Linked DNA regions of Homo sapiens: region 1 is linked to region 2. Evidence: fine-mapped expression QTL. Tissue or cell type: prefrontal cortex. Region 2 holds a variant in brackets; the other region holds the start of a gene. All regions are shown on one strand. Distances are between the middles of the regions. Region 1 holds the start of LINC02012 (long intergenic non-protein coding RNA 2012). Region 2 has its middle 29 kb from the start of LINC02012.

Region 1 (2,733 bases), 28 kb before region 2:
CACACACACACACACACACACACACACACACACCTTACACACATGTACACACACACACACACACACACACACACACACACACACACACACACACACACACACACACACACACACACACCCCTGTTCTGCAGGGCTTCAGCGTGGCCTTCATTCCCGCCTCGCCTCGGCCTCTTTTCAATTAAGAAGTGATGCCACTTGAGGCAGGGTCTGCATGATCACTTCTTGGGTTTCAGTTTGAAAGCTGCCATCCCTGCGACTGCCCAGGGCCTGTATGTTGGGACCGAAGCCAAACACCACTGTCCTCCAGGGGGCTTTCGGCCCGGGGCAGGGTCCCCAGTGCCCGCCTTCGAATCAGACTCCGCGTTTCCGCCTCTCCCTGGGCGGACCTGCCGCTAGAGGGCGCTCCTCCTCCGCAGCCGGCGCCGGCCTCCAGCGCCCCAGACTCCCGCGCTGCCGCCCGAGCCTGAGGTTTCTCACGGCGTTCGGGATTCGCGCTTCGGAAACCGGGAACAAAGAAGCAAGCAGCACCCTTCAGAAACAGTGTTCTCGCTCTCCTAGCAGCTGGCCCGGGCCCGGAGGCTGGTGCCAGGAGAAGGCAGAAGAGCCCGGGCAGCCGGAGTGGGCTACGGGGTTCAGGCAGTGCCAAGGAAGAAGGGCCTCACAATGGGCAATTCAGCTGCCTCCCGGGCCGTTGTCCCCGCTGTCTTCAAACAGGGGTCCCCTGTCCCAGCTGCCCCAGGAGGAGGGGGGGAGGCAGGCAGGGCCGAAACCCTCCAGAGCCCAGAGGGGGACGCTTGGTGGCCGCTGCAGTTACATAACCATAGGATGCTTTTGTACCGTGGACCTTGTTCTAGCAGGATCCTTTCGGAATTGCACTTTTACATGTTGGGCGAATTTGTGTCCGTGCTGAAGTTTATTAAAGGAAAATAGATGGAGCCTTGGAGTTGCACGTGTGCGTCCCTGCCTGGGAACTAGAGGAAGGAGGGCCACATACTCTGGGTCCCCATCAGCAGACCCGAACGTCAGAGAAGCTGCATGTGCGTCTACTGGGATCTTCTGAGTAAGCTAGAACTGCTGGGCCGGCCTGTGCAGGTTGTTCTGGCTTTTAATCGTTTCCAGTGATTGAAAAGCCCAGGCTACCATCCCTCCAAATAACTCCAGTGCTAACTCAAACCTCATATTCACCATTCACTTTCCGGCAGCTTAGAACCTACCGGGGCGCAGGACGTAGTTTTCGTCTTTACCAGAGTGCGTGGCCGGGCGCGGTGGCTCACACCTGTCATCCCAGCATTTTGGGAGGCCCAGGCGGTCGGATCGCCTGAGGTCAGGAGTTCAAGACCAGCCTGGCCAACGTGGTGAAACCCTGTCTCTACTAAAAGCACAAAAATTAGCCAGGCGTGGTGGTGGGCGCCTGTAACCCCAGCTACTCGGGAGGGTGAGGCAGGGAGAATCGACTGAACCCAGAGGCAGAGGTTGTAGTGAGCCGAGATCATGCCACTGCACTCCAGCCTGGGCAACAGAGTGAGGCTCTGTCTCAAAAAACAAAACAACAACAACAAAACAAAAAAAGAGTGAGAGGACAAAACAGGTGTATATTCCCATTTTATAGATGACATAACTGAGGCCCAAAGAAGGAAAGTGACTCACTCAGTGTCACAGTAAATCCACGGCAGGACCAGGGCCAGAACAAAAGTCTCCTGAGTGGCACTCTTCACTATCACATAACACTGTGGCTCGCAACAGCCCTGGAAGCAAAGCCAGTTGGGGTCACCAGGCACCTAGACCCTCACTGCTTGTCTGCTGGCAGAGAGCCGCTCCTTCTTGTCAGAGTAAGTAGGAAGGAGGCCTTTGCCTGTGCGGACCTATGGTCTGGTGACTCCAGCCAGCACAAACCCATCCCCTGATGGTTGGAGGCTGGGCAAGGGCTTCTTGCAAGATGCGCCTGACAGTGCCTTGTTACAGAGCACCTGCTGTGCTTAGCATTCCACCCGGGGCCAAGAGGCTGTGTGAGCAGGTGACAGCCAGCCTGGCCCCGCCTGTCACAAGCTGCTAGGTCTGCACCCTTGCCACCCATGGCAGGGGGTCTGACAAAGACTCCCCATTTGTGAGGTCTGTTCACTGCCTGTATTTCGAACAGGGCCTGGCTCTGCAAACCTGTGCAAACTGTGTTGATATAGGAGCCGACATGAGCAAGCAGAGGCTCCCCTGGCTCAGGCAGCCCCAGGTTGGGTTGGCCAGACAGCAACCAGGCACAGGGGCCAAGTGCAGGTCCTGCTACCCAGCCACCACAGCTTCCTCTCACCTGATTCTCACAGCAACCCAGGCAGGATAGGCAGGGTGGGGTTATCTTATTTTGCAGAAACAGGCTTTCCCAAGTCTGTCACCAAGTGAGGGGTAGAGCTGGGTGTCCAGCCAGATCTAACCTCCAGCCCAGAGCTGGTGATGCGGAAAATCAGGGCAGATGGCAGCAGGATCTAAAATAGGGAGGGAAGAAGTCCTCAGTTACGTAACAGCGAGGAGACTCTCAGCCTACGCACAGTAGCAACCATGGGGTCCTGCCACTCGAGCCAGACCCTCCTTCCCTTCCCGTTTTGGGCTCTAAGTGCTGCCCCCTGTGAGAGAATGTGCTGGAGGAGCCCCCAGTATCCTTCCAGCGGGAAGTCGGCTCTGTCAAGGCCATTCCCGAGAGCAGGCTCTAGGAATTCAAAGACCAAGCAGGCAGAGCTGGATTCT
Region 2 (2,812 bases):
CACAGAAATGCTGTGAGGCAGACCAGGTAGGCATTGTTCCCATTTGAGGGATGGGTCAGAGAGACAAGGAGGCTTGCCCAAGATGGTGTTGCTAGTTAGCATGTATTCAAATATTCTTTGGTCTATACTTCTTTATGAATGATGTTTGTTATCACAGCACGGAGCCAGGGCTTCGGACTTGCTCCCTAGCACTCTTTTGGCCCCATCAGGCTCTTTCACCTAAGGATGTAAATAAAAATGGATTTTCCACTGGAAACAGGTCAAATGACTTAATACAGCCACAGACAATTCGGAGCAAGCTGGTAAATCCTAAATGAGTCATGCTTCATTTGAATAACAAACCAGACAAACGCTCAGGCCTACAGCAGAAAGAAATAGGATTATACAGTTAGAGGGAATTTGTTTATTGAGACCAATGGCTTTTAGACATTTCTAAGGCATGAAAACCATTCTTTTTTTTCTTTTCTTTCTTTCTTTTTTTTTTTTAAGTCTTGCTCTTGTTGCCCAGGCTGTAGTGCAATGGCACGATCTCGGCTCACTGCAACCTCCGCCTCCCAGGTTCAAGCGATTCTCCTGCCTCAGCCTCCCGAGTAGCTGGGATTACAGGTGCATATCACCATGCCTCGATAATTTTTTGTATCTTTAGTAGAGATGGGGGTTTCACCATGATGGCCAGGCTGGTCTCGAACTCCTGATCTCAGGTGATCCACCAACCTTGGCCTCCCAGAGTGCTGGGATTATAGGCGTGAGCCACCGCACCTGGCCAGCCATTAAGATGAAGTCTTACCAGGCAGTTGAATGGGAAAACCTATTAAAGCAGCTTTTCTGAAGAACATGAGGCCCCACTTAGCATCTTTGGGAAACGCTCTCATTTACAGATGAGAAAACAGGCCCAGAGGCCCAGGGCGGGGGGACCTGAGCTGGGGCTGGAACCCCAAACCAGTGTTACTCCCATTAAAGGGTCCTCATGAAGAATCAGCTGATGGTCCCAACTCACTTTTTGCCCATGTTTTCCTCTGTTCCCCATATTTCTAAATATATCTTATCCTTTCTATCTCCTTTGCTCAAGCTATTTCCTCTTCTCAGAATGCATTTTCACCTGTGAAATTTGCATTTTCCCCTCCAGACCCAGATCAAAGAGATCTCCCTCCCCCACTCCGCACCTTCCTTTGCCATGAAGCTCTCCCTAAGGGTCATAGCTAGACAGACTTACAGTCCCATATCTGAGTTTCATTAGAACTTGTGGCGACACTCTTAGGACGTTCTGCTTTGTCTTAAAGTCATTTGAGACTTAATCTCACCCCTGAGATTTCATCCTTCTTGGGTTCTGTGACAGGGTCCTCATCACAGAGTCTTTTTTTGTAGTGTGTGTGTGTGTGTTTGTGTGTGTGTGTGTGTGTTTAATGGAATCTATGTATAGAATCACTTTCCTTTCTGAATACCCAAGTTCTGGAGTCAGCCTAGCTTGGGTCCCCATCCCAGCCCTGCCATTTCCTAGGAAAGTCACATCATTTCTCAGC[A/G]TTTTTGTATCTTCAGCCATTACACATGCCCACTCCTCTGTGAAGAGCCAAAGACAGGGTATCGTTAGAGGCATTTATAAGCTACAGGCTGCCTTGATGGCTAGTGTTTTGAGATCACTAGGAAAAATTTTAAATTCAGTTCTAAGAGCCTAAAAAATCGTGCAATGCCAAATAACTGGTTACTTTGGATGTCCCTTTCCAGTGAGTTGCTTAGGCTTTATACAGTCTCAGTCTTCCTTCTACCTGCATGTTGAGCCCCAAGTTCTTGTATTTGCTGCTCTGGAAGTGAGCTCACTGTATTTTTATTGACTGAAACTGTTCCTTCATTTCTAAAATGGTTTTTGAGGTCTACTATGCTACATTATTATGGGTTGAGTTGTATCCCCGCCAAAAGCCCTAACTCTTGGTACCTGTGAATTTGTCTTATTTGGAAATACAGTCTTTGCCAATGTAATCAAGTTAAGATGAGGTAATGCTGGAGCAGGGCGGGCCTGACTCCAATATGGTTGGGCGTCCTCATAAGAAGAGGAGAAGGGACAGAGCCATCCATACAGAGGGAAGATTGCCATATGAAGATGGAGGCAGAGATGGGATTTATGCTGCCACAAGCCAAGGAAAGCCTGCAGTTACCAGAAGCTAGAAGAGACAAGGAAGTATCCTACCCTAGAGGCTTCAGAGAGGGGATGGCTCCACCAACACCCTGATTTCCAACATCTAACCTCTACAACTGCAAGAAATAAATTTTTTTTTAAGTTAAAATTCCTGAGCTCAGGAGATCCTCCTGCCTCAGCCTCCTGAGTAGCTGGGACTACAGATGCGTGCCATCATGCCTGGCTTAAGCTTCTATCATCTTACGCCACCTAGTTCGTGGTACTTTGTTACTGTGTCCTGGGAAATGAACATACATGCAAACTGGCAAATTAGCAGAGAATAAGACATGGTCCACCCTCATCAAATGAGGGAGGCGTGACAACAAACACAAATGAACGAGTATTAAAATGGCTGATTCTTCTAAGTACACTGATGAAATTGAACAGGGTCATGTAACATTCCAGTTCTTACCTGAAGGAAGAGAAGCTCATTGTGGGAGAGGTAGACAGCAGCCAGGTCGCCTAGGGTCTCGGGATGCTGTATGGGAAAATGGGTTGTCATAGAGCCAGGGTGGCCACGGACAGACCTAACTGAGTTGTTTGAATGGATGCTGGTGGCTTGGAAGCACATGGCAGCAATGAAGAAGGAGTGAAAGTGGACAGATTCGAGATACCTTGTGATGGCTGAGCCAGAAGGTCTTG

The links. PIP is the estimated chance that this variant, and not a neighbour inherited with it, causes the effect.
Region 1: it holds the start of LINC02012, and the variant in region 2 is the best candidate, but not a certain one, in a credible set for the expression of LINC02012 in prefrontal cortex (CommonMind, PIP 0.86).

Annotation. Positions count from the first base shown.
Region 1 is chr3:197,507,985-197,510,717 of GRCh38, reverse strand. It overlaps LINC02012 (long intergenic non-protein coding RNA 2012), which reads left to right and starts at 1,057. Exons shown (of 1, transcript NR_145451.1): 1 at 1,057-2,733. BDH1 (3-hydroxybutyrate dehydrogenase 1) reads left to right here. Exons shown (of 8, transcript NM_203314.3): 8 at 1-935. RefSeq lists a silencer at 2,226-2,520.
Region 2 is chr3:197,479,703-197,482,514 of GRCh38, reverse strand. No RefSeq gene overlaps it. Among named protein-coding and RNA genes, the nearest start is that of LINC02012, 29 kb to the left of the region's middle. The variant A/G (reference allele first, on the strand shown) is at 1,521.